Linked DNA regions of Homo sapiens. The protein of the gene in region 1 purifies or fractionates together with the protein of each later gene. This does not show direct contact. Each region holds a gene or a part of one and is shown in the gene's direction. Other genes may lie near its edges. The genes, in order: GABBR1, MFSD8, MTFR1, MTFR2, GNG2 and PPP1R12A.

Region 1 (5,176 bases):
ATGGTCTCGATCTCCTGACCTCGTGATCCGCCCGCCTCGGCCTCCCAAAATGCTGGGATTACAGGCGTGAGCCACCGCGCCCAGCCTTTTTTTTTTTTTTTTTTTGAGGTAGAGTATCCCTCTGCTGCCCAGGCAGGAGTGCAGTGGTACAATCGCTGCAGCCTTGACCTCCTGGGCTCAAGTCATCCACCCACCTCAGCCCCTCCCAAGTAAGCTGGGATCACAGACATATGCCACCAAGTCTGGCTAACTTTTTTTTTTTTTCTCGAGATAGAGTCTTGCTCTGTTGCCTAGGCTGGAGCACAATGGTGTGATCTCGGCTCACTGCAACCTCTGCCTCCTGGGTTCCAGTGATTCTCCTGCCTCAGCCTTCTGAATAGCTGGGATTACAGGTGCGTGCCACCATGCCCAGATAAGTTTTTGTATTTTTAGTGGACATGGGGTTTCACCATGTTGGTCAGGTTGGTCTCGAACACCTAACCTCATGATTCACCCTCCTCAGCCTCCTGAAGTGCTGGGATTACAGGCGTGAGCCACTGCTCCAAGCCAAGTCCGGCTAATTTTTTTTTTTTCTGAGATGGAGTCTTGCTCTGTTGCCCAGGCTGGAGTGCAATGGCATGATCTTGGCTCACTGCAACCTCCGCCTCCTGGGTTCAAGCGATTCTCCGATTCTCCTGCCTCAGCCTCCTGAGTAGCTGGGATTACGGGAGCCCACCATCACACCCAGCTAATTTTTGTATTTTTTTTTTTGAGACAGAGTTTCATTCTTATTGCCCAGGCTTGAGTGCAATGGCGCGATCTTGGCTCACAGCAACCTCCGCCTCCCAGGTTCAAGCCATTCTCCTGCCTCAGCCTCCGGAGTAGCTGGGATTACAGGCATGCGCCACCACACCCGGCTAATTTTGTATTTTTAGTAGAGACAGGGTTTCTCCATGTTGCTCAGGCTGGTCTCGAACTCCGGACCTCAGGTGATCCACCCGCCTCAGCCTCCCAAAGTGCTGGGATTACAGGCGTGAGCCACCGTGCCCAGCTAATTTTTGTATTTTTCATAGAGACAGGGTTTCACCATGTTGGCCAGGCTGGTCTTGAACTCCTGACCTCATGATCTGCCCGCCTTGACCTCCCAAAGTCCTGAGATTACAGATGTGAGCCTCCGTGCCCAGGCCAAGTCTGGCTAATTTTTAAAAAAATTTTGTAGAGTTGGGTCCTCTCTGTTTTGCCCAGTCTTGTCTCAAACTCCTGGGCTCAAGGAATCCTCCTGCGTTGGCCTCTGAAAATGAAAATGTTGGGATTACAGGCGTGAGCCCCCTGTGCCTGGCTGCCTTTTTTTTTTTTTTTTTTTAAAGGCAGAGTCTCACTCCATCGCCCAGGCTGAAGTGCAGTGGCGTGATCTCTGCTCACTGCAACCTCTGCCTCTTGAGTTCAAGCGATTCTTCTACCTCAGCTTCCCAAGTAGCTGGGATTACGGGAGCCCACCAACACACCCAGCTAATTTTTGTATTTTTAGTAGAGACGGGTTTCACCAGGTTGGCCAGGCTGTCTGGAATTCCTGACCTCAGGTGATCCACCCTCCTTGGCCTCCCAAAGAGCTGGGATTACAAGTGTGAGCCACTGTGCCCAGCCTGACTTGTTTTTTATAATGCCTTTTTTTTTTTTTTTTGAGACGGAGTCTTGCTCTGTCGCCCAGGCTGGAGTGTAGTGGCGTCATCTCAGCTCACTGTAACCTCCACCTCCTGGGTTGAAGTGATTTTCTCACCTCAGCCCTCAGCCTCCTGAGTAGTTGGGACTGCAAGTGCACACCACCATGCCCAGCTAATTTTTTGTATTTTAGTAGAGATGGGGTTTCACCATGTTGCCCAGCTGGTCTTTAACTCCTGAGCTCAGGCAGTCTGCTTACCTTGGCCTCCCAAAGTGCTAGGATTAAAGGTGTGAGCCACTGTGCCTGGCCTTTTTTTTTTTTTTTTTTTTTTGAGCAGTTTTAGTTTCCCAGCAGAATTGAGATGAAGGTACAGAAACTTCCCATATGCTTCCCACATGCATAGCCTTCTACATTATCGACATCCTCCGCCAGAGTGGTACATTTGTTACAACTGATGAACCTACATTGATACATCATAATCACCCAAAGTCCATAGTTTACATTAGAGTTCACCCTTGGTGTTATATATTCTATGGGTTTGGACAAATGTATAATGAGACGTATCTACTATTAAATACTTTACAGAGTATTTTCACTGGCCTAATCCAATGGACATTTATTGTTACTTCATTATGGTTGGGCACAGTGCTAGATGCTGATGATTAAGAGAGGGCATGGGATTTGGTCTTGTCCTCAAGGGTAGAACCTAGGCCCATTGCATCTTCAAAGCCCAGGCTCCTTCAAAGCCCAGTGTAGTAGCAACTGCTGTACCTTGCCTGTGCCCTTTGCGTATCTCACTCCTCTATCTCTCTAGAAAGTTGGAGAGAAAAGTGAGCAAGGCATGAGGAACAAAGTTATTTATTTATTCTTCATTCATCTATTTATTCTTTCATTACCGTTTGTGTTAAAACATTCCAAACCCAAACAATTATTTGTATGGTCCCCTGTGTATTACTTGTGGTTTCCCAAGAAGTAGTTGCTAAGCTTTTCCTTGTATGGTTTCTGTGAGGTAAGGAAGGAATGATGTGATTTTCTCCAGTATGTAGAATGCAGTTCCAAGAGGTTAAGTAATTTACTTACAGTTATTTAGCCAAACAAGGTTACTGCAAGGTATATGAAGTCAGGTCTCTTGACCCAGTTCATGAGAGAGTTAAAGGAACTATCATTCTTTTTAGCTTTCATGGAAAAAGAAGGTTGAGTGTTGGGAGGGGTGTGGGTAGGATTGATAATGGACTTCAAAAATGTGAAGGGTATTTCTGTAGTTTTCATTCTTCTGAAAGCCTTCTAAGAGGCAGTGAACCAAAAGCACACAAGAATGGCAAGAAGTTAGCATGCTGAAGAAATATCCTCCTGGCTGGCAAGCAGAGTGAGAAGACTGCTATCACCTTTTCTAGAATCTTTTGGAATTGTAGGAGCTGTTAGATCCTGGGTTAACTCTATGAAGAAAGTCAGAAGGATCAGAGAACATCAGTGTCACAGCTCTTCATTGGAATATCCATGTCTCCTCCTTTACTCTGCTCTACCTTCCATCCTTTGCCACTAATTATCCAGAGTGTTTGTCAAAATTCTCTGTTTGCAGTTCTGAGCTAGCAACTGTACACACTAACACCATCAGACACAGCTAATACCTACTCTAGTCTAGTAGCTTCCGATCTAAGGCAGACACATGGGTATAGTTAAAGATTTTGAATGTACATGTGTCCAATCTGACAACAGTAACACAAACCATCCATTCAAGTAGAAGTGATTGAGTCAGAATTGGATTGCACCCCTTCCCCCACACCCACACACATTTCAGTTCTTTCCTCATGATTTTTTCCTCCCAAGACATCCCAGGAATTTGTGGAGAAACTAACCAAGCGACTGAAAAGACACCCTGAGGAGACAGGAGGCTTCCAGGAGGCACCGCTGGCCTATGATGCCATCTGGGCCTTGGCACTGGCCCTGAACAAGACATCTGGAGGAGGCGGCCGTTCTGGTGTGCGCCTGGAGGACTTCAACTACAACAACCAGACCATTACCGACCAAATCTACCGGGCAATGAACTCTTCGTCCTTTGAGGGTGTCTCTGTGAGTTAAAACTTCCTTCATACTCCCCTGTCTTCCCAATCTTGAGAGAGACTCCCAAGAGGCACCTTCTACAAACATGCATTCTCTGTTTTTCTCAGTTACTTCTTTGCAGAATCAGTCTCCGACCAGAGAAGTAGGGACCTTCAAATTAGAAGAACCCATCAAAGACTAGAGGAAAAAAAATGATGTATTCCATTTTTTTAAACCCCTCCCCTCATTTCTTTTCAAACTAGACCAAGTATTCATGAGTCAGATGAGAACTATAGGATTTTGAAAGACAAAACAGTCTGAAAGGTCATCTTCTTATTCCTTTTAAAATGAAAAGATTAGTTTCCAGAGAGATTTGCTGACTTGCTTAGGCCACACAACCAGAAGCCTGCTGGTGTTCTGTCTGGGGATTTTTTCCCATTCAAATCTCATAAGTGAAGCTCCTTCTCCAAAGAATAATGTTTCTAAAATCTAGGGTATGGGCATCTGGGGTATGTCCTATATGCAGGCAAATGCCATAAATAGCATTCATTCAGAGGCTCAATTACATCAAAAACAGAAGGATTTAAAGAGTCCCTGATGTTCTCTTTCACTCTTGCTTTTGTCTCCTTTGCCTTGCTCCACATGTTCCTTCCCTCAGGGCCATGTGGTGTTTGATGCCAGCGGCTCTCGGATGGCATGGACGCTTATCGAGCAGCTTCAGGGTTAGTACAGGGGCAGGAGGGGACCGGACATGGGGGCTAGGCTGGGGCTGGGCTGGGATGCCCCCTGGGGAAGAATGCCAGAGACATCACAAGATTGCCCTGGCACCTCCCAACTTCTGCCCTTCTCTTTTAACTCTGTTCATCAAGCTTGTAAATAATAATAATAATAAGCTTAACTACAAGAAGATTGATGTCTTTGAGTTGCACTGGTTTTGCTCTTGAAAAGAGGTGTGCAGGCTGGGTGTGGTGGCTCACCCCTGTAATCCCAGCACTTTTGGGAGGCCAAGGCAGGCAGATCATGATCATGGTCAGGAGTTTGAGACCAGCCAGACCAACATGGTGAAACCTGTCTCTACCAAAAATACAAAAAAAAAAAAAAAAATTAGCTGGGTGTGGTGGCAGGTGCCTGTAGTCCCAGCTACTTGGGAGGCTGAGGCAGGAGAATCACTTGAACCCAGGAGGCAGAGGTTGCAGTGAGCTGAGATCACGCCACTGCACTCCAGCCTGGGTGATAGAGTAAGACTCTGTCTCAAAGAAAAAAGAAAAGAAAAGAGACATGCAAATTAAAAACAGCTACTCTCTTTCCCAGTGGCTTCCATTAATTTCAGGAATTTCCCCTTGAGTGGCTTGGGTTGAGAGGTTGATGACCTGTCAGTTAGACTCAAGAAAGCTGAATCTAGGAGAACCGCTATTTTTTTTTTAAGGGAATCTGCCAAATTTCCTTGCTGTGTAAAGCTTCAATGTGTATAGCTTGGCTTTTGTAGATTGTATTTTC
Region 2 (5,176 bases), on another chromosome or scaffold:
AAAATTTTTCTACTAAAAATACAGGGCGTGGTGGCACATTTCTACTAAAACAAAAAAATTTTTCTACTAAAAATAGAGGGTGTGGTGGCATGTGCGTGTAGTCCCAGCTACTCAGGAGGCTAAGGCAAGAGAATCGCTTCAACCTGGGAGGTGGAGGTTGCAGCAGTGAACCAAGATCACACCACTGCCCTCCAGCCTGGGTGACAGAGTGAGATTTCATCTCAAAATAAATAAATAAATACAAATAAATAAAAGAATAATTTTGGCCAGGTATGGTGACTCACATCTGCAACCCCAGCAATTTAGGAGGCTAAAATGGGAGGATCATTTCAGCCCAGGAGTTAGTTTGAGACCAGCCTGGGCAACATAGTGAGATCTTATCTCACTATGATATAATGAGATCCCTATTTCTTCACAGACACACACACAAACACAATTAGCTGGGTATGATGGAGCACGCCTGTAGTCCCAGCTACTTGGGAGGTTGAGGCGAGAGGATTGCTTGAACCCAGGAGTTTGAGGCTGCAGTGAGCTGTGATTGTACCACTACACTCCAGTCTGGGTGACAGAGCAAGACCCATCTCTTAAAAAAAGAATCATTTTGTAAAAGTACAACTGTAAGGAACATATTTTTAGGGAAATGCTTGTGTAAAATTAAGTTCAGTCATATAGTCTATGGTGGAACATTAGTTGATGAATTTAGACAGTTCTATTTAAGTATTCCTCAAATACAGATACTCTTTAACTTGCAATGGGGCTACATCCTGATAAACTGATCATCATAAGTTGAAAATAGCACTAAGTTGAAAATACAGGCTGGGTGCAGTGGCTCACGCCTGCAATCCCAGCACTTTGGGAGGCCAAGGCGGGCAGATCACCTGAGGTCAGAAGTTCGAGACCAGCCCGGCCAACGTGGTGAAACCCCGTCGTAACTAAATACACAAAAATTAGCTGGGTGTGGTGGCCAGTGCCTGTAATCACAGCTGCTCCACAGGTGGAGGCACAAGAATCGCTTGAACCCAGGAGGTGGAGGTTGCAATGAGCCATTGCATTCCAGCCTGGATGACAAGAGTGAAATTCCATCTCAAAAAAAGCGAAAAACAAAAAAAAAAAAACATTTAATACACCTAACCTACGGAGCATTGTAGCTTAGCTTAGCCTACTTTAAACACACTCCAACACTCACATTAGTTTTCAGTTTGGCTAAATCATCTAACACAAAGCGTATTTTATAATAAAGTGTTGGATATCTCATGTAATTTGCCAAATACAGTATACTGTAGATTATAGTACTGGATGTTTACCTTTGTGATCATGTGGCTGATTAGGAGCTGTGGCTCTCTGCTGCTGTCCAGCATCATGAAACAGTATCATACCACAGATCACTAGTCTGGAAAAATATCAAAATTCAAAATTTGAAGTGTGGTTTCTACTGAATGAGTATCACTTTCCTACTGTTGTAAAGCTGAACAGTTCTAAGTTGGACACTCATAAGTCAGAGACTGTATGTACTTTAATAAGGTTCTAAAATTAATCAACAAATGTTAAGTCAGTGTATCAGGTTCAGTGCTATGGGGGTACTATGAGAATTCTTGTCCTTATGGAGCCAAGTAGAGGGATCAAGATATAAGATAGACATATATTTATATTCAAAGTTAATAGGAAGTACATTACATCTTGCTACAGAAGTAGAGCAGTGCTGCTGATACACATTCTTATAGAATGTCCAATACCATCCCCTCAAAGCACGTGTATTCCAGTAGGGGGAAAGCCAATAAACACAAATGTGAAGTCAGATAGTGGTAAGTACTACAAAGAAGAATAGAAGAGAAAAGAATAAGGAGTGACAAGGGCAGGGCTGGGAAGTGGGGAAATGTTGTATTTGATACACTGCTCAAGGAAGGTATATATGAGGAAGTTACATTTAAGCTGAGACCTTAGTGAAGTCAGCAAAGAGCCATGCAATGGCCTGGATGGTCTCGATCTCCTGACCTCAGATGATCCGTCCTCCTCAGCCTCCCAAAGTACTGGGATTACAGGCGTGAGCCACCACACCCAGCCTTTATTATACTTTGAGTTCTGGAATATATGTGCAGGTTTGTTACATAGGTATAAATGTACTATGGTGGTTTGCTGCACCCATCAACCCATCATCTACATTAGGTATTTCTCCTAATGCTATCCCTCCTCTAGCCCCCCACCCCGCAATAGGCCCCTGTGTGTGATGTTCCCCTCCCTGTGTCCATGTATTCTCTTTGTTCAACTCCCACTTATGAGTGAGAACATGTGGCGTTTGTTTTTCTGTTCCTGTGTTTGCTGAGAATGATGGTTTCCAGCTTCATCCATGTTACTGTAAAAGACATGAACTCATCCTTTTTTATGGCTGCATAGTTTTCCATGGTGTATATGTGCTACATTTTCTTTATCCAGTCTGTCATTGATGGGCATTTGGGTTGGTTCCAAGTCTTTACTATTGTGAATAGTGCTGTAATAAACATACATGTGCATGTGTCTTCATAGTAGAATGATTTATAATCCTTTGGGTATATACCCAGTAATGGGATTGCTGGGTCAAATGGTATTTCTGGTTCTAGATCCTTGGGGAATTGCCACACTGTCTTCCACAATGGTTGAACTAATTTACACTCCCACCAACAGTGTAAAGGTGTTCCTATTTCTCCACATCCTCTCCAGCATCTGTTGTTCCCCGACTTTTTAATGATTGCCACTCTAACTGGTGTGAGATGGTATCTCATTGTGATTTTGATATGCATTTCTCTAATGACCAGTGATGATGAGCTTTTTTTCATATGTTTGTTGGTTGCATAAATGTCTTCTTTTGAGAAGCATCTGTTCATATCCTTTGCCCACTTTTTGATGGGGTTGTTTTTTTCTTGTAAATTTGTTTAAGTTCCTTGTAGATTCTGGATATTAGACCTTTATCAGATGGATAGATTGCAAAAATTTTCTCCCATTCTGTAGGTTGCTTGTTCACTCTGATGATAGTTTATTTTGCTGTGCAGAAGCTCTTTAGTTTAATTAGATCCCATTTATCAATTTTGGTTTTTGTTGCCATTGCTTTTGGTGTTTTAGACATGAAGTCCTTGCCCATGCCTATGTCCTGAATGGTAATGCCTAGGTTTTCTTCTAGGGTTTTTATGGTTTTAGGTCCTATGTTTAAGTCTTTGATCTTTCTTGAATTAATTTTTGTATAAGGTATAAAGAAGGGGCCCAGTCTCAGTTTTCTGCGTATGGCTAGCCAGTTTTCCCAACACCATTTATTAAATAGGGAATCCTTTCCCTATTGCTTGTTTTTGTCAGGTTTGTCAAAGATCAGATGGTTGTAGATGTGTGGTGTTATTTCTGAGGCCTCTATTCTGTTCCATTGGTCTATATATCTGTTTTGGTACAAGAATCATGCTGTTTTGGTTACTGTAGCCTTGTAGTGTAGTTTGAAGTCAGGTATTGTGATGTCTTCAGCTTTGTTCTTTTTGCTTAGGATTGTCTTGGCTATATGGGCTCTGTTTTGGTTCCGTATGAAATTTAAAGTAGTTTTTTTCTAATTCTGTGAAGAAAGTCAATGGTAGCTTGATGGGGATAGCATTGAATCCATAAGTTACTTTGGACAGTATGGCCATTTTCACAATATTGATTCTTACTGTCCATGAGCATGGAATGTTTTTCCATTTGTTTGTGTCCTCTCTTATGTCCTTTAGCAGTGGTTTGTAGTTCTCCTTGAAGAGGTCCTTCACATCCCTTGTAAGTTGTATTCCTAGATATTTTATTCTCTTTGCAGCAATTGTGAATGGCAGTTCACTCTTGATTTGGCTCTCTGTTTGTCTGTTATTGGTGTATAGGAATGCTTGTGATTTTTGCACATTGATTTTTTATCCTGAGACTTTGCTGAAGTTGCTTGTCGCTTAAGGAGATTTTGGGCACCACTGGTCCCACAGAAATACAAACTACCGTCAGAGAATACCACAGTATTCTCTAATACTATAAACACCTCTATGCAAATAAAATAGAAAATCTAGAAGACACGGATAAATTCCTGGACACATACACCCTCCCAAGACTAAACCAGGAAGAAGTCGAATCCCTGAATTGACCAATAATAAGTTCTGAGATTGAGGCAGTAATTAATAGCCTACCAACCAAAAAAAGCCCAGGACCAGATAGATTCACAGCCGAATTCTACTGGAGGTACAAAGTTTCCATTCCTTCTGAAACTCCATTCCTTCTGTAACTATGCCAAACCGTAGAAGAAGAGGGACTCCTCCCTAACTCATTTTATGAGGCCAGAATCATCCTGATACCAAAACCTGGCAGAGACACAACAAAAAAAATTTAAGGCCAATATCCCTGATGAACATCGATGCGAAAATCCTCAATAAAATACTGGCAAACCCAGGCCAGGTGCGGTGGCTCACGCCTGTAATCTCAGCACTTTGGGAGGCTGAAGTGGGTGGATCACGAGGTCAGAGGTCGAGACCATCCTGGCCAACACAGTGAAACCCCATCTCTACTAAAAATACAAAAAAAATTAGCCAGGCGTGGTGGCAGGCACCTGTAGTCCCAGCTACTCAGGAGACTGAGGCAGGAGAATGGCATGAACCCGGGAGGCGGAGTTTGCAGTGAGCCAAGTTCACGCCACTGCATACCAGCCTGGGCGACAGAGCAAGACTCTGTCTCAAATAATAATAATAATAATAATAATAATAATAATAATAATAATAAATAAAAATAAAAAATAAAATACTGGAAAACTGAATTCAGCAGCACATCAAAAAGCTTATCCACCACGATCAAATCTGCTTCATCCCTGAGATGCAAGGCTGGTTCAACATACACAAATCAATAAATGTAATCCATCTCATAAACAGAACCAATGACAAAAACCACATGATTATCTCAATATATGCAGAAAAGGCCTTTGATAAAATTCAACACTCCTTCATGCTAACAACACTCAATAAACTGATATTGATGGAACGTATCTCAAAATAATAAGCGCTATTTATGACAAACCCACAGCCAGTATCATACTGAATGGGCAAAAACTGGAAGCATTCCCTTTGAAAACCGGCACAAGACAAGGATACCCTCTCTCACCTCTCCTGTTCAACATAGTGTTGGAAGTTCTGGCCAGGGCAATCAGGCAAGAGAAAGAAATAAA
Region 3 (3,500 bases), on another chromosome or scaffold:
CCAGCTACTGAACTATTCTTTTATATATTTATTAGATACTATTGATAGAAATTACACAATTTAGATAAGCAACAAAAAAAAAAATGACACTATAATCCTACCCTTTAAAGATAACCACTTGATGGGGAAAAGGTGATAACAGTTTTAGTTAACATTTATTTGATTACTGTTGGACATTTTTCACATTTTATTTTCTGTTTGTATTTCTACTTGTAAAATGCCTACTGACGTACTATGCCTATTTTTCCATTGGGCTTTTGATCATTTGTTTGTTTGTTTGTTTGTTTGTTTGTTTTGAGATGGAGTCTCGCTCTGTCACCCAGACTGGAGTGCAGTGGTGCGATCTTGGCTCACTGCAAGCTCTGCCTCCCGGGTTCACGCCATTCCATTCTCCTGCCTCAGCCTCCTGAGTAGCTGGGACTACAGGCGCCCGCCACTAAGCCCGGCTAATTTTTTCTATTTTTTAGTAGAGACGGGGTTTCACTGTGTTAGCCAGTATGGTCTCGATCTCCTGACCTCGTGATTCGCCCACCTCGGCCTCCCAAAGTGCTGGGATTACAGGCGTGAGTCACCATGCCTGGCCCATTTGTTTCTTTATTTGCAAGCACTTTATATTCATTAGGGATATAAACCATTTGTTACATTAAGTTGCAAATAGGTTTCTCAATTACATGGCTCTTCTCAAAATCTTCAGAGTGGCTAGTAAAATGAAAAATATGTCAGCTGGGAGAGCACTCAGGGCTGCTGTTTTAGGGACCAGAACATTCCACCTCTGAAACAATTCCTTCATTTATGATACTGAAGTTATTGTCAACCAGTCAATCTGCAAGTCATTTTTACCAAATAAATTGTTTTGTGTAAATAGTTGATATCATTAAAAAATTTTTTTTCTGCTCCGACTCCACCGGGAGATATCATTTAACGTATAATTTGTACAACTGGAGTTGACTGGTGTGAGTTGGTTGTGGTTAAAATGTAAACAGTCAGACAAGTTAAACAGGAAAGTTAAGTTTCCATGATTGAAAAAACATACATTGTAATGTACATATAAATATATATATAAAGCAGTATAACTAAGATCTTTTTAAACATTTAAGATTTTTTTTTAGGGACAGAGTCTTTCTTTGTTGCCAGGTTGGAGTGCAGTGATGCTATCATAGCTCTAAGATATTTTATTAATTTTTTTCACCTCCCTCCCTTGGTTACTTTTTGAAATGGCCGATTTGATATATAGTCGGCCTTCTGGATTCATAGGTTCTGTATCCGCAGATAGAAAATATTTGAAAAAACAATGATAAAATAACAATATGACAATAAGAAACAATACAAATAAAACAATACAGTAGACAACTGTTTCCATTATATTAGGTATTACAAGTAATCTACAGATGACTTCAAGTATATGGGAGGATGTGTATAGGTTATATGGAAATACTGTATCATTTTATATTTCTTTTTTTTTTTGAGATGGAGTTTTGCTCTTGTTTCCCAGGCTGGAGTGCAATGGCACACACGATCTCGGCTCACTGCAACCTCCACCTCCCAGGTTCAAGTGATTCTCCAGCTTCAGCCTCCCGAGTAGCTGGGATTACAGGACCCCGCCACCACGACCTGCTAATTTTTTGTATTTTTAGGAGAGACAGCGTTTCACCATGTTGGCCAGGCTGTCTTGAACTCCTGACCTCAGGTGATCCACCGCCTCAGCCTCCCAAAGTGCTGGGATTACAGGTGTGAGCCACCGCGCCTGGCCCATTTTATCTTTATTTTTATTTTTGTGGGTACATAATAGGTATATGTATTTATGGGGTACGTGAGATATTTTAATACAGGCATATAATGTGTAATAATCACATCAGGGTAAATGGTAAATGGGGTATCCACCTCAAGTATTTATCCTTTCTTTGTGTTACAAACAATCCAATTATACTTTTAGTTATTTTTTAATGTACAATAAATTATTGTTGGCTATAGTCATCCTGTGATGCTATCAAATTCTAGGTCTTATTCATTCTAACTGTATTTTTGTATGCATTAACCATCCCTACTCCATCTCCCCCCACCCCCCCACACTGTCCTTTGCAGCACCTGATAACCATCCTTTTGGGTTTTTTTGTTTTGTTTTTGAGATGGAGTCTCGCTCTGTCACCAAGGCTGCAGTGCAGTGGCGTGATCTCGGCTCACTGCCACCTCTGCCTCCTGGGTTCAAGCGATTCTCCTGCCTCAGCCTCCCAAGTAGCTGGGGTTACAGGCGCCCACCACCACGCCCGGCTGATTTTTGTATTTTTAGTAGAGATGGGGTTTCACTACGTTGGCCAGACTGGTCTCGAACTCCCGACCTCAGGTGATCTGCCTACCTCAGCCTCTCAAACTGCTGGGATTACAGCTGTGAGCCACCATGCCCAGCCTAATTTTTGTATTTTTAGTAGAGACAGGGCTATGCCATGTTGGCCAGACTGCTGGTAACCATCCTTATACTCTTTTTTTTTTTTTTTTTTTTTGAGACAGAGTTTTACTCTGCAACCTCCGCCTCCCAGGTTCAAGCAATTCTCTGCCTCAGCCTCCCGAGTAGCTGGGATTACAGGCGCCCACCATCATGCCCAGCTAATTTTTTGTATTTTTAGTAGAGACGGGGTTTCACCATTTTGGCCCAGGCTGATGTTGAACTCCTGACCTTGTGATCCACCTTCCTTGGCCTCCCAAAGTGCTGGGATTACAGGTGTGAGCCACCGCGCCTAGCCAACCATCCTTATACTCTTATCTGCATGAGTTAAGTTGTTTTAATTTTTAGGTCCCGTAATAAGTGAGAATATGTGAAGTTTGTCTTTTTCTGCCTGGCTTATTTCGCTTAACATAATATCCTCCAGTTCCATTCATGTTATTTTCAAATGACAGGATCCCATTCTTTTTAATGGCTGAATAGTACTCCGCTATGTATATGTATCACATTTTCTTTATCCATTTGTCTGTTGATAGACATTTATTTAGTTGCTTCCAAATCCTGGCTGTTGTGAATAGCTCTGCAACAAACATGGCACGGCAGATATTGCTTCAATATACTGATTTCCTTTCTTTTGGGTCTATACCTACCAGTGAGATTGACGAGTCATATGGTAGCTCTATTTCTAGTTTTTTGAGGAACCTCCAAACCGTTCTCTATAGTGGTTGAGCAAATTTACAGTCCCACCAACAGGATATGAGGATCCCTTTTCTCCACATCCTTGCCAGCATTCATTCTTGGCTGTCTTTTGAATATAAGCCATTTTAACTGGGTGAGATGGTATGTCATTGTAGTTTTGATTTGCATTTCTCTGATGATTGGAGCACTTTTTTAATATACCCGTTTGCCATTTGTAAGTCTTCTTTTGAGAAATGTCCATTCAGATCTTTTGCCCATTTTTGAATTAGATTATTCGATTTCTTTCCTATTGAATTGTTTGAGCTACTTATGTATTCTGGTTGTTAATCCCTTGTCAGGTGAATAGTTTGCAAATTTTTTTTCC
Region 4 (5,176 bases), about 110 Mb from region 1:
TGCCTCCTGGGTCTTGGTTCAAGCAATTCTTTTGCTGCAGCCTCCCGAGTAGCTGGGATTACAGGCACGTGCCACCATGCCCAGCTAATTTTTGTAGTTTTAGTAGAGACAGGGTTTCACCATGTTGGCCAGGCTGGTCATGAACTCCTGACCTTGTGATCTGCCGGCCTCGGCCTCCCAAAGTGCTGGGATTACAGGTGTGAGCCACCACACCTGGCCCACATTTTTAATTTTTAAGAGCTGTTTCTTTTTCTTCAAATGCTTCTTGTTAAAATCTTTTTGGTTTTGTTGGTCTTATCCCACTGACAGTATTAAAAGTGTAGGTTTGTTTTAAGTTTCCTCTGTTCTTGAATTACTGTATTTTTTGTGAGTTTCTTTTTTCCTTTTAGCTTTGATCTCTATCTTTAGTTTTGTAGCCTTGGGTAAGCATCTGGTGATTCTTATTTAAAATGAGGCAAGGAAAAGCTGATCGCATGTTCTTTGTGTGAGGTGGGCTTATCAACTTGGGAGCTTCACAGTTTAGTGATTAGGGAGAGGACCATTTTGTTGGCCACACCCCAGAGCTGTATGTCTTTTCTTTTGGGCTACAGGATTTTCCTTAGAAAGTTCTTCATTCTCCCTTGTGGTCAGGAGGGATGGGGATTACACAGCGGGTGCAAGTCAGGTCATTGGAGAGCTGAGTGGGGAAAGAGGAGCAAGAGAGAAGTGTCTTATTTAGCACACGCCCTGTGTTCAGCAGGGCGCCCACGCCCCATGCTCTCACTTTCATCAGCTTTCCAGCTTCCGGCATCTGGTTGCAATTCTTATCTCCTGTCTCCCCTTCTAATCTCTTTGTCCTTGTGGATATATAGATCTTTTTCATTTCTTTACTGTCATTTTAGTAGGATTTCACAAGGGATTTGCCATGCTTACTTGGAAATCCCTCAGTGAGGTTTTCGGTGAGAAAATAGATATATTTTCTGTATGATAGTCCTGGGACAGATAAGTCAGTTCTGTTTTTAATGAGGTTGTGAGTTTGATCCTTGCAACGATGCAGAAGGGCTCATTTTAAGTGAAATCCTTGTGAAGAGGAAAGAGAAGGGAAACCAGTAACCACAGGAAGAGCATGAGGCAGCTTGTTGAGAAGAATCTCATGGCTGTAGGTGCATGCTTGGTCCCAACTAGATCTTGTACTTGTGTTGTCGGGCTTAGTATCAAGTGGCAACTCTGTGACTGTTACCATCACTGGAAAAACAACTAAAAGGCCAGTAGCCTCTGCCTCCTGTCCCCCTATTCTCTCCTGAGTTGCCTCTACAGCTAACTTTGTTTTGTACGTTGCTGAGGAATCAGATGAGCTCTCTCACCTCTTTACACCTACAGATTCCCCGTGCAGATTCTCTGCCTTCCATCTTGCTGTTGGGAGCCAAGTGTCATCATTCATGGCCAGGCTCTTCCTTTGGTTACTGGTTTCCCTTCTCTTTCCTCTTCACAAGGATTTCACTTAAAATGAGCCCTTCTGCATCACTGAGTCTTCCTTCTATACTTCATCCTTCTCCTCACACCTGAGTACTTCCCACCTTCAAAACACATGTACTCTCAGCCGTTGTTCTGTTGTTCTGCTCCCCTTTCTGATATGAATTCTTGAAGTCGTCTATAATTTGTTTCTGTCTATCGCTGCTGCCTTCTACCCATGAAAACTCCATTGAAAACTGCTTCACCAGTGACTCCATGTGGCTAAATCCACTGGTCTCTTAGCATTGCTCGTCTTAGTTGACCTCTTGGCAGCATTTGATACAGCCTATGGTCCCCACCTCCTTGGAGCACTTTCTTTTTTTTTTTGAGACGGAGTCTCGCTCTGTTGCCAGGCTGGAGTGCAGTGGCGTGATCTCGGCTCACTGCAACCTCTGCCTCCTGGATTCAAGTGATTCTCCTGCCTCGGCCTCCCGAGTAGCTGGGACTACAGGCATGTGCCACCATGCTCAGCTAATTTTTGTATTTTTAGTAGAGATAGGGTTTCACCGTATTGGCCAGGATGGTCTCGATCTCTTGACCGCATGATCCGACCACCTTGGCCTCCCAAAGTGCTGGGATTACAGGCATGAGCCACTGCGCCTAGCCTGGAGCACTTTCTTTACTTGGTTTCTGGGAAAGCATACCCCCAGGTTTCCTCTGACCTCATCAGCTATTCCTTCTTATTCCTTAAACTCTTCCCCCTGGGCCTGGTCTTTAAATGTTGAAATACCTGGTTCAGACCTCAGCCCCCTCTCTTCTCTGTCCATGCTGTTTCCTTTGGTGAGCTCACCTAGTCCTATGACTCTAAATACCAGCTGTATGCTTATGACTCAAACGTTTATTTTTCTAGCCCTGACCTCTCCTCTTGAGCCCAGATGCACATACTGAAATGCCTACTTGACATCTTTATTTGCCTGTCTCACAGGTATCTCGTTTCACAGGTCCAAAACAGGACTTTTCCTTCCTACCTGTTCTTTTCCGCCACCTTGAAAACCTGTTCTTTCCCACGTCTTTTGCATATTAGCAAATGGCAACACGATCACCCGGTTGCTTAAGATCTAGGAATCAGGCCAGGTGCGGTGGCTCACACCAGTAAACACAGCACTTTGAGAGGCTGAGGTGGGCAGATCACTCGAGGTCAGGAGTTCGAGACCAGCCTGGCCAACATGGTGAAACCCAGTCTCTACTAAAAATACAAAAATTACCCTGACATGATGGCGCACACCTGTAATCCCAGCTACTAGGAGGCTGAGGCAGGAGAATTAATTGTTTGAGCCCGGGAGGCGGAGGTTGCAGTGAGCCACTATACTCCAGCCTTGGTGACAAAGCGAGACTCCGTCTCAAAAAAACAAAAACAAATATCTAGGAATCATCCTTCATCTTTATTTTCCATTCTATCTCCCACCGTTCCCATCAGCACATAGCTCAATTCTGTGGACCTCTTGACCTCCACTGCCAACTCCCCAGGCTAAGCCCATTCTTATCTAGCTTAGACTTCCGCAGCAGCCTCCTCAGTGATCTGTTTTCATTCTTGCCTCCTTATTTATTCTGCAGATAGTGACCAGAAGTCAGATCAGGCCATTCTCCTGCTTCAGACTCTTCTGTGGGTTTCCGTTGTGCTTGAATCAGTTCTAGAGCCCTTGCTGTGTCCGTAGGCCCCTCCAGGAGCCAGCCCTCACTTCTCTCGCTGAGCTCCTCTCCTATGCCCCATGTTTGCCCACTGCACTCCAGCTGCAGTTGCTTTCTTTTTTCCGTTTCTCACACATGCCAAGCTCCTTCCTGATGCAGCCCCAGATGTTTACACTAAAACTGACCCCTTGTCATTTTCTTAAAGAGGATGTTGCTTCCTTAAAGAGGCTTTTTTTCTGATCATATCTAAAGTGCTTCTGTCCCTAATCACTATTACATTTCCCTATTTTTTATTTTTTAATTTAGTTTTTTTTTTTTTTTTTTGAGACAGGGTGTTGCTCTGTCACCCAGGCTGGAGTGTAGTGGTGCCATGACTTGCTGCAGGCTTGACCTCCTTGGCTCAAGTGATCCTCCTGCCTTAACCTCCCAAGTAGTTGCCTGGCTAATTTTTAAATTTTTTCTAGAGATGGGGTCTCGCTATGTTACCCAAGCTGCTCTCGAACTCCTGGGCTCAGGCAGTCCTCCCACCTTGGCCTCCTAAAGTGCTGGGATTATAGGCATGAGCTACCGTGCCCAGCCTCTGTTTTGTTTTATTCACAGCTCTTATTACCAGCCAAATGATCTTACTTGTATATTGATGATAATCTTGCTGTAAGAATTGGGAGCAGAATACTCCCAAAGCATAAAATGGAGTCGGATGTGGTAGTGGGCATTCAATGAAGATTAAATGAATGAACAACCAAACAAATGAACAATTTGCGTAATTTTTTTTTTTTTGGCATGAACTCTCGTCCTTTTAAAAGTTCTTATTTATTTGAATTTTCCTACCCATTAGGAAATTAGAAAATTACCATAATAAAGATCTTCAGCATAGTGACATCTGACAAATCTCAGGTCATAACAAGGTTATGGCAGAGTCTCAAGTCACATGGGTTCTTGGTTTTCTGATTCTTCATTCATTGTGCCTTCCTTATTTCATTGCGAAAATTTCTTGAAGATTAGATTATTTTCAATCTCTTGAAGACTAATTAAATTGTAAGATATGCTTGTATTCCTGCCATGTTTGTCAACAAGGAGCTAAAATTACATCCAAGTTTTAATAAATTCAATTTTTTTTTTTAAAAAATAGGTCACCTGGCGGTAGACCCATTCATAAGAGGAAAAGACAGAATTCACATTGGGATCCAGTTTCTTTAATATCTCATGCACTTAAACAGAAATTTGCATTTCAAGAAGATGATTCTTTTGAGAAAGAGAATAGATCTTGGGAATCTTCCCCATTTTCTAGTCCAGAAACTTCAAGGGTAAGCTACACTAATGTAAAATTAATTTTTCAGTTTTTCTCAGATGTGTTGTTTATGTTACAGCTTTGTGTTCAAGTTCTCTTGAAGTAATTGTGCAGAATGGGCTATATAATTGTTTATTGATGCTGCTAATGTTTCTGGGGTTTTTTTGTTGTTAATTTTATATGCTCATTTTCACTTTTAGCCTATCATGAGCTCTTTTGAAATAAAATACTTAATTTGAAAAATATTTGTGCATATGTTTATAATGACTTATCTTAGGTGCCAATTTGATGTTGCCATCTGCAGTATGAACTGGGTGTCTGACAGTTTGAGAGGGCCAGGGAAGAATGGTGCAATAGATTCCCCCTAACCATATGGAATGTGAATACGCCAAGATTTTTCTCTGTCAAATATACAGACTTTGGATATTTTGTTGAATATAATGTTAACTCTGCATGTAAAAAAGCAAATGGGATTATAGTTATCTTTAGTGACAGCACTTACTGGATGCCTAGGATGACAAACACTGGATTTTAAGCATTTGAGCCTTAAGATTACTCCTTACTTGAAGTCTCTTTTCTTAAATTTAGAAGTAATTCTAATTTTGGGGTGGTTTTCACATGTCTTAATTTAGTTGAGGTAGTATTAACACATAAGAATAAGCCTTGAGAATGACAGGAGTGTGGAAGAGGAACAGCATCTAAAGTCAGCTAGATAGCACTGAGGAAGGACAGACGTCAGCAGAGGAAGAGACTGGAAAACTCAGATGC
Region 5 (5,176 bases), on another chromosome or scaffold:
CAAAGGCTCAAGATGAATCCTCCAGAGGCCTTAAGAGCTTTCTCTCCCCTAGTGTAATTCTTTCTTCTCTGCTATTCTCTCCTCAACTCAGGGAGATTGCTGAACTCTGTCTGGGTACTCCCTCCCTGTGCAGTGGCAGGCAGTAAGCTGGGGCAACTGTAGAATTTATCTTATCTCCCTTCTCTCAGGGATCACTCCTCTGTGCTGCCTATTGTCTAAAAGTTAAAAATTATTTCTTCATATATTCTGCCCAGTTTTTAATTTAAGGCAGGAGAGTTTAGTTGGCCCTTATTACTCCATCATAGCCAAAATTGGAAGTATAGAATGCTGTATAAACTCTACAGGGACAAGCATCTTTGTATATTTTGTTCCCTGATTATTGCAAGTATCCAGACTACACCTGGCATATTTGATGCTCAGTAAATATTCGTTGCATGAAATATCTGTCGAAGAAGATTATGTTTGAGAACTCCTTCAGCAATTACTATGAGTGTTGAATATGTGTCAGGCACTGATTATACGGTAGTAAATAACACAGGTGTGGTTCCTGCCTTCGTGGAGCCCAGAGCCTAAAGGGAAAGGCAAATATTAAATGGCAAATAAACAAACGATGTCCGTAATTATAAACTGTGAAAGCAATTTATAATTTCTGTGAAAGAGAAGAATGTGAGAAAGTACTCTGAGAGAAAATAATCAGGAAAGTCACTGTGGATGAGGCGATCAGTGAAGGTTCTGCAAGGAGGTGGTATTTCTGCTGACTTCTGAAGGAAGATGATAAGCCAACCCATTGAGGAGATGAAGAGAACAATATTCTAGGATACTGAATATGTGACACTCTGAGGCAAAAAAGAACTTGGAGCTTTCAAAAAGTAAAGGAGATATTTGAGAGGGAAGAATGCTACAACATGAAATTGGAGAGAGGGGGAGGCCCAAAACATGCAATACCCACAGGCTGTTTTACAAAGTTTTGGTTTTCTACAAATTACAATGAGAAGTTATTGAAGGTTTTAAATAGGAGAATGATAGGAATCCACTTGTATTTTAAAAATATCTTTCTAGCTACAGTATGGAGAATACTACTCCTGCATAGTTATGAACACAGGAAATCATTTAAAACTGAGATAATTAAACATTTTTGTGCTCTTGACTCATTTGTCTGTCTGCTCAAGCCTATGGTCTCCTTCTTAGAATCATGTTTTTAAATTACAAAAGAAACTAATTATATTGACATGAGGGTCATTAGAATATTTTTGTAAAACATTTTAAATAATATTATTTAAAATATCAATTTTTAAAAATATATGTGATGTAGTTATACATAGGTACTCCTTTGTTAACTGATTATGTAAGATCTAATAGGTCTACAATCATAAGGTGGATGAACAGAAATGCAGTGTTGAGGTGTCTGCAATGAATATAATGTGATTGAAAGTATCTGGTATCTATCAGTGGCCAAGTCACATGTACTGCTAGGGCTACTGCAGTGTGTTGTCTATATTTATAATGAGAGGAAATGTTAAATTTCCATTTGAGGTTAGTGAAAAATAAAGATGTAAATTTTTTGTATTATTTGAAGTTCACATACCACCCCCCGAATTCGATCTGTGGAACCCTGGGGTAATCCAAATTAATTGCCTTTATTTACAAAGTTATTTTAGTAATCACAAAGAGAGAAGACTGCAGTATGAACTGGGGTAGCTGCAATAGATATAACAGGAAGGGAGCCAAATTTGAGATATCTTTGGAGGAAGAATCAACAGGACAGAAAAGGGAGAGATTTTCTGGAGTTATTGGGGAAATCTTCATGGAAGAAGTAGGCATACGAATGTAGAAGAAGCTGTGTGCAAAATGTTAGCAGGGATTGTCAGAAAGCAGAAAGATCTGCTAGGCACACGATTGCTGTGACTCATTATAAGGCACAGGACAAGGAAGACAGCCACAGGTTAGAAAGGAGGAATGTTCATGAAGATTAAGTCAGGGACATTGAGACTCACAACTCAGTAGCTCAGGAGCTGTGGGACCTGGGGCAAACACTTAATGAAGCCTCCACTTCACATATTTAAGATGAGAATGATAATAGCTTGTGACCCATAATGTTGTTGTAAGGATTAAATAAGATACCGTATGTAAAGTGGTTAGCACAGTTCTGACACATAGCAAGGGCTGATAAATATTAGCAATTATTCTAATTACTGCTGGGATTCTGACACTGTTGGAGCATTGCCCACAGGAGATTGCAGTCTTGTTGAGGAAACAAGATAAAACACATAATATATTTTAAGAAGGAAACCATTCAGAATCAAATGTTCAAATATAAAGATATGAGCAGCTCTAAGTTATTAAATTTTCCTAGTATAGTACTTCCTGTATCATAAAAAGATTTTGAATATTCATGCTACATAGTTGTATGTGAGTGTTGCAAACGGGTAGGGATGAACGGTGCTGCTTCTCCTCGTAACAAATGAGTTTTAGATATCACTGATTTACTGTCTCCACTGCCTAACAGCTAAGCTCCTGTTTGGTGTAACAATGACTATCGCTCAAACAAGAAGAAAGAATGAAGAAAAAAAGTGATCTCAATTCAGTCTGAAAGTCTGTCCTTTGTTTTCATGTGGGAGAGCTAAGACATAAACAGGCTGTTTCCTTTCATTTTGTCATAGAAGCATTTCATAAAGAATTTCAATTTCAACCTTTGGAACAAAGCCCACATTTGAGTAGTTTATATGCAGATGGCTGTGGCTTAATGGCAACACATTCGAGTTCAAGTTCTTTTTCTGCTGTGTGCTTTGCTCTATGATATTGAACAACTTATATAATCTGCTGAGCCTCAATTTTTCATCTATAAAAAGAGGATAATAATTCTTACCTCAGGATTACTGTGAAGATCAAAAGAGGAAATTTAACTCAATGTCTGGAACAAAATAAGGATAAAATAAAAATATTTTTGTAAGTACTGTAATGTCTATTAAAAAGTGAGACTGATTTTTACATACATATCATGTATTGGGTTGACTAGTGTCCCCTAAAATTTATGCCCACCTGGAATCTTAGAATGTGGCCTTACTTGGAAATAGGGTATTTGTAGATGTAATCAAATTAAGAGGAATCATACTGGATTAGGGTAACTCTAACTGGTGAGATGGGAAATTTGGTCACACAGAGAGGAGAATGCCACATAAAGACACAGACACTCAGGAGAGAATTCCATGTGAAAATAGAGACAGAGATTGGAGTGATATGTCTATAAGCCAAGGGATACCAAAGATTGCCAGCAACCACCAGGCACTAGGAGAGAAGCATGGAACAGATTCTCGCTCAGACCCTCCAGAAGGGACCAACCAAGCTGATGCCTTGATTTCAAACTGCTAGTCTCTAACAGAATAAATTTCTGTTGTTTTAAGTTACCCAGTTTGTGAGGACTTGTTCAAGACAGCCAGAGGAAACAAATACACAAACCAATACCTGTACCTCTTTGTGTCAATTAGGGTTGGCTAGATGTTGTGGTAGTAACAGAAGGTGCCCTACCCTTCATTCTTAGGGGTTTGCAATAGCACAGTCACACTTCTCACTCCTACCATATGTCAATCATAAATCAGCTGCCACTCCACACCATGTCACCTTCATCAGGGATGCTGGCAGATGGAGCAGCCTCTGTCCAGAATGTTGCTTCTATCTGTTCTGTGGCAAAGGGAACAGAGACCCCAAAAATTCAACGGTTTATGGGATGAGAAGAGGAAACTGATTTCTCTACCCAACCAGTAAATCATAAAGTTGAAGTAGCCTTAAGTAAAAAAGGCCAGGCACAGTGACTTACACCTGTAATCCCAGGACTCCGGAAGGTGAGGCGGGAGGATGGCTTGAGGTCAGGCGTTCAAGACCAGCATGGGCAAAATAGCAAGAACATTTTTGAAAAACCAGCTAGGCATGGTGGCATGCACCTGTAGTCCCAGCTACTCAGGAGGCTGAGGCAGGAGTGACAAAGCTTTAATCAACTCAGCCCTGGGACAAGAAACAAATCAAGGATATTGCCACTATGCCATTTGTTAAAACCTCTGCATCAATTAAGAGGGTTCCTCATAAATTATTTCAGTCGGACGAAGTGGTATAGAGGAAGGGACATGGCAAACTGTGCATTGGCTCCTAAAGTTTCTGCCCATAATTGATCCACATAAATTCTGCTCACATCTCTCTGGCCAGAGCAAGCTTATGTCACTGGGCAAGTCTGATGTCATCATGTGGGCATGTATGTCCCACTTGTAGGAAGGGGCAGTGACTATCTTTAGTAATAATATAATTCACCCAAATCTTAAATTAGATTATCCTTTCAGTAGTTGCTTTGATATCCTTTCAGTAGTTACTTGACAGGCGTTCGTAGTAGTACAGTGGTGTTGCTTTCATGTGGAAATGTGTTATTTTATGTAAAAATTTGACCCCAAATGGCATTCCCCAGGTTGATCATTTACCTAGTCCCCAGATGTAGCTATAGATGACTTTTAGTTTATTTCCTGAAACTAAATCCACGCTCTAATGTAGTAAAAATTTCCTCTGGTGAAGATGGTTGAAGGAAGGTACTACAGGGAACTCATAACAAGCAGCTACAAATATGTTGTAAGAAATGACAGCATCGCCAGAATCAGTGACGACCTCCCAGTGAAATATCACTAAAGGGCACAATGCTTGGTTAAAGTCACAGGTATAAATTTTAATATATATGAAGTATAAAAATATGTTCTATATAGTGTGTGTATACATAGATATATCTCCTGCTGCATCTGCTTAAAAAGGGAAATTGACATGGTTTTAGGCATCCCTAGCACAATTCCTGAAGCAGAGAGTCACGACTACAAAATGATAATAATGGCTAGCCTGTGTGGAAAGCTTGCTATGTGCCAGACACTAAATGATTTACAGGGATTTTTTCATTTAACCCTTGTTACCAGGGCTGGGACCAGGGTGGGGCAATGAGATATCGGAGCACAAAAGTGAAGGAGGGCCGGGCACAGTGGCTCACGTCTGTAATCCCAGCACTTTCGGAAGCCGAGACAGGTGGATCACTTGAGTCCAGGAGTTCAAGACCAGCCTGGCCAACGTGGTGAAACCCTGTCTCTACCAAAAGTACAAAAAATTAGCCAGGCACCATGGCACACACCTGTAGTCCCAGCTACTAGGGTGGCTG
Region 6 (5,176 bases), on another chromosome or scaffold:
TATTGGCATATTGATACTCATTACCATTTCCTATTATTTTATATAAACTTTCTATTTAAATTCTGAGTAATTCCTACTTTAAATCAGATATAAGTACTAAATATAGGCATTTCATATTTTAAAGCCTAAATCTTACAGTATTAGTCATGATAATATCAGTAGTAATGTAGAATAAACAGCAGAAAATAAAGTTTTTTCCCAATTTCCAGCTATATATTTTCTCATGTTGATCATTGAGATGTTTCAGTTCTTTAAACTTCTATGTGTGAGGCCTGCATTGTGTTTGTAAAAATGTTGAACCAACATTTAAAATTAGAGATACTCACTTCAAACTTCAGATTTTTGCCATTTCTTGAAAAGTTGGCTGACCTGGCAACACTGGATCTGAATTCTCACATACCAACAATTGGCTGGAGCTAAGTAGTAGCAGCTGCCTACCTTCCATCCCCCTAGATAGTCCCCTGGCCCATTTTACCCATTGTTTTTACAATTACCTTGCAAAATATTGTCAAGATATATTGCTATATTGTGGTTCATTGCAATCCTTAACAGAGGGAGAAAAAAGAGAAGAGGAGAAAGAAGGAGAAGATAAATCACAACCTAAATCAATCAGAGAACGACGACGACCAAGAGAGAAAAGAAGATCTACAGGAGTTTCATTTTGGACACAAGATGTGAGAACCTATTAAAATACATTATTTGATAGTATTCTTGATAGTATTCTTAATGTGTCCAAAAATACATACTAATAATTTCTTATATGCCTTAGATTTCATATTCCTTAAATCATCACTGTGTTTTCTGAGTTGTTAAATAAGAAAAATTATTTTTAAGGATAGTTAACTACTTAGATTGTTGGTACTACTTAAAAGGAGTGGTTCTGACCTAATTATGGAATAGAAATAATAATGTCTGAAGCTCAGAGTGCATGTATTGATTATTTTATAATAGGTAAACTGCTTCTTGTAAAAACATCTTTTAAGAATTTCTAAGGAGTCTATTTAATTTCATTTTCATAAATATCATTATAAGATCTACATTACAGATTACTTCCATCTCAAAGCATGCTAAATAGACACAGTGCTTTGCTTATCAAATTACAACAGTCTTGTAAAAATTAGTGTTTTCCTGGTCCTTGATTGTAGGCCTGACATTGCTATTCATTGATTTTGTTTCCATTTTCTAAAAAATAAACCTTTTATTGAAGTATGGCATGTTTAGAAACATAATTCATACATGTATAGCTTAATGGATTAGCACAATAGGAGCATATCTATGTAATCACCACTCAGAATGATGAATAAAAACAGCAGTGTAGATTGCCCCCATGTTCTCCCTCTCAATCCCTATCATCCTCATTTTCAAAGTCAGCTAGTATCCTGATTTCTAACACCGTAGTTAACTATGCCTGTTTTTGAAGAGCATATGACTAGAACTATAAATTTTATAACTGTTATGTTTATAAGATATATCTATGCTATTTTATGTAGCAGTACATTTACTTCTATTGTTATAAAAATATTTTTTAAAGAAAATTTCTAACTATTCTTTCACTGAAAGAACATGGAATCATCTGTCTTCCTGTTAAACTGACCCATCTCTCACTATATGTTCCTCTTTATCTCTAATATTATATCTGACCTTAAATTCTGCTTTTTTGAAAAGCTTCCTTTTGATTATCTTTGTATAATATATCTTTTCTGTTATTTTCAATTTATTTGTGTTTTTTTTAATAAACAACATATTTAGGTCAACTTTTTTCTGAACTTTTTTTTAATTGCAGTGTTTCAGTCCATTTTAATTTTACTTAATTACTAATTACTTAATTACATGAAACAAATAACATTGTCATTTGCAGTTTAAAATATATAAAGAGCTAAGGCATATGAAAACAATAGCACAAAAATATGGGAAAGTATTAAATGGAGTTGAAGAGTTTTAGTATCTTCGCATTGTCCATGCTGTGGACAAAATATATATTCAACTTGATGAATCAAGAGTGCATATGTCTATTTAAAAAAGTTTAAAAAGAGAGGGAAAATCATACATAAATGACAAAGAAGGGAAGAACAGATGGGGAAATCGGAAAATAGTTTTCTATTTTTCTTTTGATTTTTAATATAGAAAAGTTAAACATATACTTTATAGAAGTAACATAATAGTATAATGAGCCCTACCCCCAGTATTCATTTTTTCAGCTAAATTCCCACTCCATCTCCCAACTCCCATATTATTTAGAAGAAAATCCTAGACATCTCATTCTATCTACAAATGTCTCAATGTATATTCTGAGAGAGAAGGACTCCCAAAAATAATTTTAAAAAATAAATTTTGAAATTATTACTAAAATTTCCTAAAATATAAATTGGCAATCTGTTTTTAGAGTGATGAAAATGAACAAGAACAACAATCAGACACAGAAGAGGGATCCAATAAGAAAGAAACTCAGGTAAATACCATTACTTTTTGTATTGAGAAGTATTCATATTTTTTAATAATTACTTTTAAATTGCGTTTTATTATGTTTATTCATGCAAAGCAGTTATTGCATACTCTACCTACATGCTGGGTATGCAATATCAGTGTTTGCCTGGGGATCAGGATTAAAAGGACTGGGAAGGGTCACAAAATAATGTTTTGGAGGTGATGAAAATGTTCTGAGTCTTGATCCTAGCAGTGGTTTTATGGATATACAGAACTGCCAAAACTCACCAAATTGTACACTCTAAGTGGATGTAATTTAATGTATGTCATTTAACCTTCGGAGTTAAAAGAAAAAGCAAAAAAAGAAATAGTACCCTTGGCCAAAGGAAAATATCTAAAGGATAATCAGAAGTAGTGGAAATCCAGAAGTAGTAGGCTCAGATTTTATTTCTGTAGATTTTATTTCAAAGTTATGTTCTGGAGAATATAGGCATCTTTTAACTTTCTTTTACATATATTTAGAAATTTAGAGTCTCCAACAGATTTTTATGTTGAGAATCTAAAAGACATTTTTTTCCTCTCAGTACTGATGAAGGACCTAAAGCAAGTTTGAATGACAAGGCTGCACAGCCAGCAAGGGTTGAAAGTTCCCCCGACCCCCTTCCTGATTGTTTGGCTGTGTAGAAAGCTAAAAAATATTCAAAATATTTCTGTTCATATGAGGATAGAGCTGAACAACACGAGTCTAAACCTGGCACTGTCTAGCATGAAATAGCATTCTGGTCATATTAATATTATTTTCTTCATTTTGAGTTGAAGTTCCTTAATAGAGCTATTACATTTCTTTTTAGTCAGCAAGGATCTACAGTAATGTGAACAAAAGTTGGTTACCTGTGCTAGGTGACGGTGAACATTATTTTAGGGCCAAGTTTGCCTATTTTGACCCCACAATTTTATTTTATCTTTAGGTGGCCAGACAATGAGGAGTGAATTGGTTCTGAGGTTAAATTATTTGCAGGCCTAAAGCTTTAACTGTTACCTAAATTTTTTGGTTATCAGTTATCAGAACTCCCCAATTTACCTATGTCCCTTCTTTATTAAACAAGAGGGGAGGAAATTAGTAAACCATCCCCATCTGACACCTCTCATTGCCTTATCACGCAGACTCCAGCCCCCACCAGGCTGGAGTGGAAGGGAGATTGTCTGGCTTTTAAAGTTGTAATTTTGAAGCATATTGATGTATACTGTATTTTAAGTTTTACTGTTAAAATCATATGAGATACGTTAAGATGAAGAGGAACATTGTTTCTAAGACGAAAAGTTTTTTTATTTTCAATTTAAGTAGTTTTTGTTTACTTTAGATTGTTTAGAGTTCTTTTAAAGTAATGAATAACATATAAATAAATATAACAAATATAAATAACAATATGAAACCTAAGTCAAACTGGATTAAACAAAGAAAATGTATTGTACTCCAGTTATATTCTGCAGTCCTTTGTGTCAGCTTCATCCTCAGGCTGATGTACCTCATAGGGATAGGATTATAGTTGGCTTAGGATAGACAGGGCCTATCACTGAACTGTTGCAGCCATTTTGCTACCAACATGGGCCATGTGTCATCTCACCTAAACCTAGTAACTGCTATACCATGAGAAAAAGGAAGAATGGATGTAGATAAATAAATAAGGTGCAATGTATGTGCATAGATCAATATTTTCTATATTCACATAGATATTATGTGTCCAGAAAAGGTTGGTTAGATAACAGTGGTTATCTAGAGAATGGAGGGATGAGGAATTACACAGGAACTTTGTATACCATTATGTGAACTTTACAATACCATAGTCAGAAAGATATTTCTGAATATCTTTCTATATATTTTAATCTTTTTTATCTTTAAAAAGATATTTTTACTTTGGAAAATTAATCTTAAAATTTGGGGAACAAGGGCGTTATGCTAAATGAAATAAGCAAGTTACAAAAAGACAAGAACTGTGTGATTCCACTTATTTTATTTGGGTATCATAGAAACAGAAAGTAGAACCTTTGTTGCCAGAGCTAGGAAGAGGAGGACAAAGGAAGTTGTTCATTGGATATAGAGTTTTATTTTTGCAAGATGAAAAAGTTCTAGCGATCTTTTGCACAACAATATGAATATAATTAAAAATACTGAACTATATACTCTAAAAAATGGTTTACATGGTAAATTTTATATTACGTGGTTTTTACCACAATTCTTAAAAGTTTTTAAATAATGCTAGGCCGGGCATGGTGGCTCACACCTATAAGCCCAACACTCTGGGAGGCTGAGGTGGGAGGACTGCTTGAGCCCAGGAGTTCAAGACCAACCTGGGCAACATAGGGAGACACTGTCTCCACAGTAAATTTAAGAAATTAGTCGGATGTGATGGTGCATGCCTGTAGTCCCAGCTAACTAGGAGGCTGAGGCAGAAGGATCAGTTGGGCCAGGAGGTCGAGGCTGTAGTGAGCTGTGATCATATCACTGCACTCCAGCCTGGGAAACAGAGCGACACCTCATCTCAAAAATAGTAATAATAATCAGTGATAACACCATGATTTTTAAAGATAATGGAATTTGAGTGATTTCTCACTAGACTTTTTATTGTTAAAATTTAAATCAGTGAATGTAAGTGCAGACTATAAGGTAAGATGTATTATTTTTGTTTGATATGTAGACATTTTAGTTCAGGAATGGCCATTTTACTGAATTTGATTATCTTGAAAATTGAAA

What was found.
Region 2: the proteins of GABBR1 (region 1) and MFSD8 purify together in Homo sapiens (affinity purification with mass spectrometry; one large-scale study listed by BioGRID and IntAct). This does not show direct contact.
Region 3: the proteins of GABBR1 (region 1) and MTFR1 purify together in Homo sapiens (affinity purification with mass spectrometry; one large-scale study listed by BioGRID and IntAct). This does not show direct contact.
Region 4: the proteins of GABBR1 (region 1) and MTFR2 purify together in Homo sapiens (affinity purification with mass spectrometry; one large-scale study listed by BioGRID and IntAct). This does not show direct contact.
Region 5: the proteins of GABBR1 (region 1) and GNG2 purify together in Homo sapiens (affinity purification with a luminescence readout, with the first as the bait; one study listed by BioGRID). This does not show direct contact.
Region 6: the proteins of GABBR1 (region 1) and PPP1R12A purify together in Homo sapiens (affinity purification with mass spectrometry; one large-scale study listed by BioGRID and IntAct). This does not show direct contact.

The regions. Positions count from the first base shown.
Region 1 is NC_000006.12:29,611,776-29,616,951, reverse strand, and holds part of GABBR1 (gamma-aminobutyric acid type B receptor subunit 1 isoform a precursor), read left to right. Parts: intron 1-3,466; coding exon 3,467-3,709; intron 3,710-4,337; coding exon 4,338-4,401; intron 4,402-5,176.
Region 2 is NC_000004.12:127,923,114-127,928,289, reverse strand, and holds part of MFSD8 (major facilitator superfamily domain-containing protein 8), read left to right. Parts: intron 1-5,176. UniProt on the Homo sapiens protein: Outward-rectifying chloride channel involved in endolysosomal chloride homeostasis, membrane fusion and function. Conducts chloride currents up to hundreds of picoamperes.
Region 3 is NC_000008.11:65,647,734-65,651,233, forward strand, and holds part of MTFR1 (mitochondrial fission regulator 1 isoform 1 precursor), read left to right. Parts: intron 1-1,492; exon of another isoform or gene 1,493-1,806; intron 1,807-3,500. UniProt on the Homo sapiens protein: May play a role in mitochondrial aerobic respiration. May also regulate mitochondrial organization and fission.
Region 4 is NC_000006.12:136,232,573-136,237,748, reverse strand, and holds part of MTFR2 (mitochondrial fission regulator 2), read left to right. Parts: intron 1-4,249; coding exon 4,250-4,424; intron 4,425-5,176. UniProt on the Homo sapiens protein: May play a role in mitochondrial aerobic respiration essentially in the testis. Can also promote mitochondrial fission.
Region 5 is NC_000014.9:51,960,936-51,966,111, forward strand, and holds part of GNG2 (guanine nucleotide-binding protein G(I)/G(S)/G(O) subunit gamma-2 precursor), read left to right. Parts: intron 1-5,176. UniProt on the Homo sapiens protein: Guanine nucleotide-binding proteins (G proteins) are involved as a modulator or transducer in various transmembrane signaling systems.
Region 6 is NC_000012.12:79,791,136-79,796,311, reverse strand, and holds part of PPP1R12A (protein phosphatase 1 regulatory subunit 12A), read left to right. Parts: intron 1-552; coding exon 553-674; intron 675-2,383; coding exon 2,384-2,449; intron 2,450-5,176. UniProt on the Homo sapiens protein: Key regulator of protein phosphatase 1C (PPP1C). Mediates binding to myosin. As part of the PPP1C complex, involved in dephosphorylation of PLK1. Capable of inhibiting HIF1AN-dependent suppression of HIF1A activity.